Regions from separate parts of the Homo sapiens genome. Here region 1 is linked to region 2. The links come from fine-mapping of genetic effects on gene expression. A gene starts in region 2. The other region holds a variant in brackets. All regions are shown on one strand. Distances are from middle to middle.

Region 1 (5,387 bases), 28 kb after region 2:
GTCCCTCCCCCTGTGCTCTCAGGTGATAGATGATTGACTATTTCTTTACCTCCTGCTTTTAGCCTAATTGGTATTTTAGTGAGCTCTCTTTATGACCTGATTGGCCGGGTGTGAGCTGAGTTACAAGCCCCATGTTTAAAGGTAGGTGCAGTCACCTTCCCCAGCTAGGCTTAGGAATTCTTAGTCGGCCTAGGAAATCCAGCTAGTCCTGTCTCTCACCTTCTTTCAGAACATAATTTAGCTGACTTACAAAGATGCGTGCAATACCCCAAGATAAAATAAGACAAGTGAAAGAAAATAAACAGAGAGCTATCCAAGAATGTACTAATGTGCTTTGTACTGTAGCAGGATAGGACTGACCCAAAGACTGTGTTTAGACTAAAATTAAAATTTCTATAAACATAACACGCATCAGATTATGAAATTAGATTCATGCTATGTTTACAGAAAGCAATTATTCTAAGGTTAAAATAATCTTTTAAAATGCTGTTCTTTAAAAAAATAACTACTGACCACTGACACTGATTATAATTTATTTTCTATTTTTTCTTTTGAATAAGTGATTATATTAGGATATCTTTTTGTTTTACTTTAAATTAAAAAAAAAAACCCACATTGCTTTGATTTGCACTTGTCTCCTTAACTGAAGAAGTCATTTCCACATTCGTTTGATCAACTGCCACCATCTGAAAAACAGATAAGCAGAGACAGTTGCAATAGCCTGAAGTTTATCTTTATTGGTTCATTTGTTTTTTTGCCCTCAGAAGTTATTTTCTTTTTCCTGCTTTCGTTTATCTCTCCAAATGCTTCTTCTTTAACTTTATGATTTTCTAAACATTCTTGAGACTATAAAGAAGTTACTTTCTTTAATCAAATTTATTTAATTCTTTATATTATTTTATTATTATAAATTATTTATCTTTTATTATCTGATTATTTTAAACATCAGATCCACATCAGCCCCTTCAAGAATGACAATAGAGTAGGATATTGCCCTACGTGGGGTGGGGCAACAGAACCTTGGCCTTTGAGACCCACCTTTCCTTGACTAGAGGATCTCTCAATAGAGTAGGATATTGCCCTACGTGGGGTGGGGCAACAGAACCTTGGCCTTTGAGACCCACCTTTCCTTGACTAGAGGATCTCTCACTTATCACCTCTGCCATCATCACATCTGCTTAAGGCATGAATGGTGTGCTGGGATATCTTCTCTTCTCTTTGGCTAAAATCTGGCCATGTAATTTTTCAATTAATTACCCAGAGCACAGCTGACACTAGGCTGGAGGCATTTAAATAAGACTTTTTCATTTTGAGCTTGGAGTTCACCAAGGAGAAACCTCCAGTCGAGCTTCTGACCCACCTCCCTGTGGCAGAAGCCATCCTTACTCATTTTTTGCCTGGAGTGCTTCAAATAACTATAGATTCCACAGATTCATAGCCAAGACAAAGAGTTCCAGATAAATGTTTTACATTTTTTAAATATTTTTCTCTTCAAGGAGACCTTGCCTCAGGTAAGGGAGGTAGTCTTAATCTAAAGAACCCCAATAATACACTTAGAATGCCACAACCTCACATATTTTATCTTCTAGTTTTCATTGTACTTTTTGGTAATGTGATATCTGGACTAGGTTAATTTAGGGAATTAATGCCCTCCAGTAAGATTAAGGTCACCTTCAGTTGAGATTTCATGACTTTAGTACAGAACACAGTAGGTGCTACCTAGTGAAGCTCATCTGCTTTCTAAACCATGTGCTCCACCATTCCTGTTTCCTCTCATCCTTTAATAGTGACATCAGTTTGTGTAATGTCATTGCTCAGTAAATATTTATTGAATGGTTGAATACATGAATTTACTTATTTCTAAAATTTACCAACTTAATGCTGCATTTAGTATCTTCATGCAATTGAGCTAATGTAGGTTTTCAGAAGTGAATGTAAATAGCCAAAGTATGTGGATACTTTTGCGATTTATAGAAAATATTTCTAAATTGCTGTTCAACATGGTTGAAGTGATTTAGAAGCTCATGCACATTGTAGGAGTATGCCTGTTGCACAGTGTCTGTCAGTACTGGGTGTTATTAAAAATAGTGGTTTTCCAGTTGTGCTTCTTGGAAAATTAGAAGCTCTTTTAAGCTCCCTCAAAAGTCCTTGAAACATGGTGAGTAAGAGTAAAAGCAGGCCAATTTCCAAGGCCCACCCTTTCAAATATCATGAATTAAACCCAATTTCCTGAGCTCCTCAATAATGCTTTGTTTGAACAAAGGATGCCTCAGTGGTTTTTAATTAGAAAAAGTAAATTCGATTATTTACTTTTGTTTATAATTTTATAGACTAGAAACAAACATATATTAATGTGCTCTGTTAAGATTACTGGCAAGGTGGGACAGTTTTCCAGCTGTATTTCCCTTTAAAAATGTCTCTTTTGTGTCTTGTACTCATTTATTTGTCTGGTACATAATGTTTTACCTTATCCAGTTGAACTCCCACTTCATATAATAAAGGTATTAATAGTTTTTCATATTGATTACAAATCTTTTCTCAGTGTTTTTCTTTAAATTTTTTAAAGAAATGAAATATTCTTTTTAACTCTCTGAATCTGTATTGCACTGATTTGGAGGAAATATTATAGCTTCGGAGAATTTGAGAGAACTGAGAATTGAAAACAGAATGCCTGATTGCTTTTTAATTAATTTAATTTTTAGGGGTGGGCATGGTGGTTCACGCCTGTAATCCCAGCACTT[TG/T]GGAGGCCAAGGTGGGCAGATCACTTGAGGTCAGGAGTTTGAGGTCAGCCTGATCAATATGGGGAAACCATCTCTACTAAAAATACAAAATTATGTTTTTGTAAAATACAAAAATACAACATGGGGAAACGATCTGTACTAAAAATACAAAAATTAGCCGGGCGTGGTGGCGAGCACCTGTAATCCCAGCTACTCGGGAGGCTGAGGCAGGAGAATTGCTTAACCCCGTGAGGTGGAGGTTGTGTGAGCCGAGATTGTGCCACTGCACTCCAGCCTGGGTGACAGAGCAAGACTCTGTCTCAAAAAAAAAATTAATTTAATTTTTAATTTTAATTTTTAACTAAATCTCTTCAAAGAAAAAATGATGTTTATCAAATAATCTGCAAATGCTTACCTGAATGCAAACTGAGGAGGAAAGAAGGAAATAAATACAGCTTTACCCAAAGGGAAACTTAATAATTTTTTTTTAAGCAGAGAAGCATTGTACTACCTAATACCCTTTGTTGAACTCACACAAAATGAGTACAAGCTGTTCTTGGCATTACAAATTAGGAAAAGGAGAAAGTCATTCTGTTATGACATCTTTTCCCTTCAAGGAGATCTTACATTTTTGCTGTCCAATATTCCTTTCAATGACATTCCCTTGAAATGAAGGGGCAGTTTCTGCTGCCCAGCCAGTACATCAGTGGATTCAGGTAGAGCCAGAGAATGAACACGTGACATGGTCCAGGTCCTTACCTTCAAAGAATTAAAATTGAATGTCTCATAAGCCATGGTTTGAAGCCCCACAGACAGTTATTTAAAAGAAAGCAAAACCATGTGGTTTTAAAATAGATTCAGATTTGTTGACAATCTCAGGGTAAGTAGCATATTCCAAAGGAAATTTACCTGCAGGCAGAAGTCAGAATGTGAGTTGAATGTTTATGTGTAGTTGCACAAAGACTCCCTAGGGTTGGCTTTCTATGGCCAGAAGCATTTATCCTTTCCCATCTCTCAAACATGCACCCTATTCCCCACTGCTTCTCTTTTTCAAAACTCCAGTTACAAAAGTTCTTTTGGCATAAACGTTAGATGTACTTCTTTAAAACTGCTGGCAGCAGCATTGTTTTCAGAAAAAGAGACTGACTCCTGTTAGTCATGGTGAGATGAAGTTGTTCTTCTCTTCCCCTGAGACTAGGAAAGCAGCTCTCCCTCACTTTTAATCTTCCAAGTTTTCTATGTCACTAAAGCACCATCATACAATCTGATTGGGTCTAGTTCTATATTTTCTTAATACTAATGTTGTCTTTAATATTGATTGGTGAGGAATATGTTGGAACTCTAGACATCAGTGATCCTCTAGGGGAGTCTTGCTGCAGAGTTTGTCTTATATAAGCAATTCCACCTAACACAGTCAACAGTTAGCCATATCTAGGGATATATCTAGGGATAGACCATATATGTAACATATTCATTTCCTCATTCATTCATTCATTCAAGTAATATTGTAGGATTAGATATACAGGACACACAGGACAAATCAGACTGCTTCTCTCTTAGAATTTATACTCTCTTTGATGAGGGGGAGAGAAAATAAACCCAGCAAACACAGATGAAAAGTAATTACAGACAATGACAAAGGTTATGAAGAAACAAAACAGGGTGCGGTGATGGAGAATGATGGACTGTGGGAGTAGGACATTGCTAATTAGATTTGGTGGTCAGGGATGGCTTCACAGAAATAGTAATCTATGAGCCGAGGACCTGATATGACAAGTGGGATCCAGGCACAGAAAAGCTGGGAGGTTGCCGTCATGACAGAAGAAACTCAAAAGGAAGAGCCCCACAGAAAACACCACCTGAATGTTTGAAGAGAAGGAGGGTATGCTGGGCCATCCATTGACTAGATCTTGTAGGGCTTGAATCTTTGTAATCTTGGAGGAGAAACTTGGATTTTATTCCCATCAGAGTAGTTGAAAAAAGATGAAGGAAAAACTGGAAAAAATTAGACCACTTTGGGATCTATCTTGAAGGAAAGCTAACAAGACTTGTTAGATCAAGGATAGGAAGTGAAGGAATGGGTAGAATCAAGGATAAGTCCCAGGTTTTTGGTTCAAACATGTAGGCAAATTATGAACTATTTGCTGAGATGAAGAAAACTGAGATTCGAGGAATTAAAATTAATTTTTTTGATCTGTTAAGTTTGATATATTAGGCATCCAGATGAATAAGCTAAATAGGCAATTGGATGTAGGAATCTGAAGCTCGAATAGTACAAAAGACAGGACCTAATTAACAAAGCAAGGACCTATAGTGTGATACATGTATGATGCTTATTTTTCAAGCTACTATTTGTAGTTTGACATTTAGGCTATATAATTTGTCTATATATGTCAATGTAGAACACCCACATTTTGACATTCTCAAGGCATAGTCTATACTTATTAGGAATGCATTTTCTAAAAATTATATCCCCTTTCCTTATTTTGTTTTCTTAAAAGCTAAGAAATTCCCTGGGAGCCAGAAAACATCCTTATGATTCTGAATACTTTTGGTAAAGAATATTGAAATTTGACAAAATGTCTTACACTTGACTCCCATTATAAAAAGAGAGGTGTTTTAAAGTATCAGTGTATTCATTAAGTATTTTTATTCATTTTTAAACT
Region 2 (5,387 bases):
TTTTCACTCAAACCTCCCATAATCCAAATGATGACTGCTATAGAATTCCATCAGAAGACTTATGAAGACAAGTGATTTGACAGCAAAGAGTCAGAATTCTTAGGTTACAGTGGCAAAATCCTGTAGGCTCCATGTCTGTCATATATTGCTATTTGTTCAGTCTTACTTTGATCTACTCACTAAACAATTCATCCTCTATAGAACTGAGGGTGCAAAGGTGGTTGGTAGTGGGTTAAAGAGGAAAGTCAAATCAGAAATGAAGAAGAGGTTGAAGAGACCACATGTAGATTAAAAATAAACTTTTTTGGGGCATTGATTTTCATTTAGTCACAATATTTTTATTTTCAAATAACATTAAAGAAAAACAAACAGTCTTTATGTTTTTTAAAGGAGAAGCAGAGAAATATTACACTATTCCTAGTCAAAAGTAATGTTAGCAGGAATGTCTAGACTATTTCTATGTGTTTATTTCTCTTTATTTTAGTTAAATGATAGATTTACTCACTTGCAACTAACTCTTGCTATATTTCTCCCATTTCAAAATTCTTAAACTATTGTAGCTAAAAATTGTATCTATTTTACTTAGCTGCCTTTGGTAGCATTTGAAAGTGAATGCAAAATTTCTGGACAAAATAGAAACAGGTACATGGGCTAATATAGGAATATACACAATACTGTTAACTGTCCCAAGATTTTTCATTGATTATGTCTTCCATGGTGAGATTTCAGGCATAAAATTGGTTTGGGTTAGTACAAAGTCTGGCCCAACATATGCTTACTTGTAGTTCTTCCTAATAAGTCAAACAAGCTCACATTTATGGTGCTGAATATATTCTAGATTCATTGTATCTGTAGTTGCTAAAAATTTAGTTCCATGCCTTAGGATGGTATTAGAATGTCCATGATAAGAAAAATAAGTGCAGCAAAATAAAAGAAATGCCACGCCTATCTTTCTGTATTATTTTTTCCACTGGAGAAGGACAGATTTTACTCATTAAAACTACAAAAGTCTGAGACCAACTGCTCCATATTCTTTTGTGTTCGTTAAATGTTGTTATTTGGAGGTGACTTAATTAGACTAAAGCTAGAAGAGAAAACAATAGAATGTCAAAGATGCTTTTCAAGTTGTAAACTAATGTTTTAAGTTATAAACTACTTGATACTATTTTCTTAATTAAAAAGATATTTCTGAATCGAAAAGATCAAAGCTTCTGAGTAAATTTAGAAAGCATTTTTTTGTCATTTACAGAAAAGGGCTTTAAGAGCCTATGTTCCTTTGGCTTTAAGAGCTCTTCACTGTGACTTCAAAGTAATCATTTTCAGATTAATAAACTGGAGCTCGTCTTTGGAATTATCAGTTTTTCTTTTATTACAGAATCTGAGGTTAGCCAGAATCCATCTGCAGAACATGAGGCAGAAGGGAGAAACACCTAACAAGGTGAGGCCTTCCTTAACTATTTTAACACAAGCAATTAACCATTTATACTCACTTAAAAGCAGACAGCTGGGATGATGGTGTCTGCTAAAAAAAAAAAGTGTAATGAAATGTTCTTTAGTTTTTTGATCTTTAGTAAAATTTCATCTTCGTATAAAATTTTATTAACCATTCCACTAACTTGTTACTTCTCCACTCCACCTCCCCACTCCCTTTAGAATCCTTAGTTTGAAGACATAATTCTTTAAATGATCTGTCTCAGGGAGGGGGGATCTTGTTACTTTTAAGGACTGCAAATAGCATTATAAACTTTGTTTTTATTTTTAAATACGAATATCGACTGAAGCTCTCAAATCAATCAATATTGTTGCCAAATTTTGTAAAACGCACTGTCTTAGCTCTCTAACGATAGAGTTCTAATATAAATGTAAAAACCAACCTATCAACATGTTTTCAAAAATACTTTTTGTAAAGAACAGTACAATTTTGTGGTGTCCAAATATTCCTTTCTTTCTTACAAAATATTATTGGATCTGTCCAGTTCATAAATATTCCTGCCCTCTCTTCCTCCCTCCCTGCCTCTCTCTCCCTGCAGTTTTTTTGATGTTTGTTCTTTTCTTTCCATTTTCTAGTTATTAATTGGTTCAATGGATGACCTTTGTGCGACACTGTTATACCTTATCAGCCTCGCCAGGGCCCCCGCGCCGCCCAATCCCAGCAACTCTGGTTCTCCTGTGACCCCAAGCCTTCCAGATCCCTGGGTTTCCCCCCACGGGACTGTCACATTCTTCCCCGCCGGAGACGCCAGTCGCGGGGCCTCCTCCCTGGGGTGTGAGCAGGTCGGCGCGCCACACTTCTCTAGGTGGCCGGACGCGCGCCCAGGGAGGAGCTGGCGGCGGGGCCCAGGCTGTTCCGGCTGCGGCACGCCAGGGGATGTGGTTAGCCCTGAGCCTGGAGGCCGAAGGTGGGCAGGCAACACTCCCACCATGTTTCGGAGGAGAATACACTAGGCTAGCCTAACGACACTCGGAGTGCGAGCTGCGGCTGGGGTAGGGGCACCCCTTTCCAGCGGGCGCGTGGGTCACCAAGGAGCAGTTCTCCGGGACCCGTTGCGTCAGAGGGACTGGGCGGGGCTGGGCGGGGCAGGACGGGGGCGGCGCTCAGGAACCCTGGAACCCGCTGGCCCTGAGGCCACGGACCGAGACGTGGTGCTGAGCCCCTGCGCGGTTTCTGGTGCGTAGAGACTGTAAATCGCTGCGCTTCTCAGTCATCATCATCCCAGCTTTTCCCGGCTCGAATTCAGCCTCCAACTCAAGCTCGCGGGAAAGACTACCTGAGAGGAGAAAAGCTTCTGTCCCTGGACCTTCTTCTGAGGGTGGTGAGGTTTGTTTAGGGTCGCAGAAGCAGGGAGGACTGACTCAGCCCTCACAGAGAAGAGGTCTGGAAAGTCCTGGGGAACTCGCAGGGCACGGGCCGCTGTCGCGGTTGGGAGGCGAGGGCGCAGCGCTGGGGTTGTAGATTCCAAGACCCCTGAGGGTGGCTGTGTTGGTTTCTCGCAGGAGTCGGAGGCTCCCTGCTTTCCAGCCGCCCAGTGACCCAAGCTTAATCTTCAGCACCACTTGGGGCGACCTTTTCGGTGCAAACCTACGATTCTGTTTCTCAGGATTCCTCCCCATCCCGCTTCGCCCCGGAAAAGCTGACAAGAACTTCAGGTGTAAGCCCTGAGTAGTGAGGATCTGCGGTCTCCGTGGAGAGCTGTGCCTGGAAGAGAAGGACGCTGGTGGGGGCTGAGATCAGAGCTGTCTTCTGGCCCAGTTGCCCCCATGCTTCTGTCATGGCTAACAGTTCTAGGGGCTGGAATGGTCGTCCTGCACTTCTTGCAGAAACTCCTGTTCCCTTACTTTTGGGATGACTTCTGGTTCGTGTTGAAGGTGGTGCTCATTATAATTCGGCTGAAGAAGTATGAAAAGAGAGGGGAGCTGGTGACTGTGCTGGATAAATTCTTGAGTCATGCCAAAAGACAACCTCGGAAACCTTTCATCATCTATGAGGGAGACATCTACACCTATCAGGATGTAGACAAAAGGAGCAGCAGAGTGGCCCATGTCTTCCTGAACCATTCCTCTCTGAAAAAGGGGGACACGGTGGCTCTGCTGATGAGCAATGAGCCGGACTTCGTTCACGTGTGGTTCGGCCTCGCCAAGCTGGGCTGCGTGGTGGCCTTTCTCAACACCAACATTCGCTCCAACTCCCTCCTGAATTGCATCCGCGCCTGTGGGCCCAGAGCCCTAGTGGTGGGCGCAGGTAGAGTATGGGGTGTGGTCTGCCTATACAGAATGGCAGCCCACCTGCTTTCATACCCTTTTTTTTTTCTTTAGGATAATTCGTAACTAATATTTTGGGTGAGTGAAGTGTGCATGTTAAGAGTACAAAATAGTTTTATGATTCTATGCTGGTTTAACAACTGTCTCCTCCCTTCAGGCACGTAGTTTCAGAAAACTTTTATGAAATCTCTGCTTCCTACCATTTTGAGACAGGGACAGTTTTACTGCTATTGGTTCCTTCAGTGAGTGCAAGAACACACAGAGAACTTGGTCACTTCTAAATTTTATCAGCTCTGACAAAATGGTGAATAGGAAAGTTATCTGACTTCATTGTGACACGTCTACCTACCTCTAATTGTACTTTATCAGGGATGACTACATTTGCAGAAGAGATATGTTTAAAGGAAGGTACCTGAATTCCTTTCTTCATGTCTGCTCTTATTTTATACTGTCTGCAAGCTAGGACTTGCCTAGCAAGGTTGCGCTCCCACCTGTGAGCCAGAACGTGGGCTCTTGGCAGACTCTAGGAGCCTTTCTGTTTCTTCTTCTTATCCTTCCATGCATCCTTTTCTTTTTTTGACTAAGTTCTACCCTTCCTCCTCCCCCTGCCTTGGAGTTAGGACATCTTAGGCTACACGTATTTTCACTGAACTGTAAAGAAAAGCCTGGGGTTTAGTGGCTAATTAGTAAAGAAGCTAGGAAGATGGGTTGCTTAATGAAATAGAAGTGAAATATGAAAAATGATACTTATTTGGTGTAATCTAAATGGTTTATGCAGAGTCTTCTTCAATGGGGAAGGAAGGTGCGGAAAGAGGAAGATCCATTGCAAGGACCATAATGAAAATATTTAAGTATTTTAGATTAATAGATACATACCAATACCTTGTATAAAGTTTTTAAACTCACAGAACAATATGGAAAAATATATTTATACCCTGGTGATCTCTAAGGTATAGAACTTTTCAAATAACCTTTATGATATAATATTTGTATATCAAACCAAAGTGAGTTAGGCAGTATATGGAAAATGGGCTAGCCCTTCAAGGCTATCACTGTTCCTAGTTCTTTTCAGTTCAACTTGTGGTCTGATAAAGTGGCAAATGTATACTTTTTCTTATTTATTATTATTTTTTATTATTATACTTTAAGTTCTAGAGTACATGTGCACAAAGTGCAGGTTTGTTATGTATGTATACATGTGCCATGTTAGTGTGCTGCACCCATTAACTCATCATTTACATTAGGTATTCCTCCTAATGCTATCCCTCCCCACTCCCCCCACCCCACGACAGGCCCTGGTGTGTGATGTTCCCCACCCTGTGTCCAAGTATTCTCATTTTTCAGTTCCCACCTATGAGTGAGAACATGTGGTGTTTGGTTTTCTGTCCTTGTGATAGTTTGCTCAGAATGATGGTTTCCAGCTTCATCCATGTCCCTACAAAGGACATGAACTCATCCTTTTTTATGGCTGCATGGTATTCCATGGTGCATATGTGCCTCATTTTCTTAATCAAGTCTATCATTGATGGACATTTGGGTTGGCTCCAAGTCTTTGCTATTGAGAAAAGTGCCGCAATAAACATACATGTGTGTGTGTCTTTATAGAGGCATGATTTAGAATCCTTTGG

Alleles and levels. Positions count from the first base shown, and alleles are read on the strand shown. Sizes are in standard deviations (SD) of each study's normalised expression.
For the expression in subcutaneous fat of the gene that starts at base 2,609 in region 2, allele TG in region 1 goes with a higher level than allele T (small effect, 0.38 SD a copy in GTEx).

Evidence for each region. PIP is the estimated chance that this variant, and not a neighbour inherited with it, causes the effect.
Region 1: its variant is the best candidate, but not a certain one, in a credible set for the expression of SLC27A6 in subcutaneous fat (GTEx, PIP 0.66).

The regions. Positions count from the first base shown.
Region 1 is chr5:128,991,124-128,996,510 of GRCh38, forward strand. All of the region lies in intron 4 of SLC27A6 (solute carrier family 27 member 6), which reads left to right. Among named protein-coding and RNA genes, the nearest start is that of SLC27A6, 28 kb to the left of the region's middle. The variant TG/T (reference allele first, on the strand shown) is at 2,742.
Region 2 is chr5:128,962,880-128,968,266 of GRCh38, forward strand. It overlaps SLC27A6 (solute carrier family 27 member 6), which reads left to right and starts at 2,609. Exons shown (of 10, transcript NM_001017372.3): 1 at 2,609-3,739. The coding sequence starts at 3,259.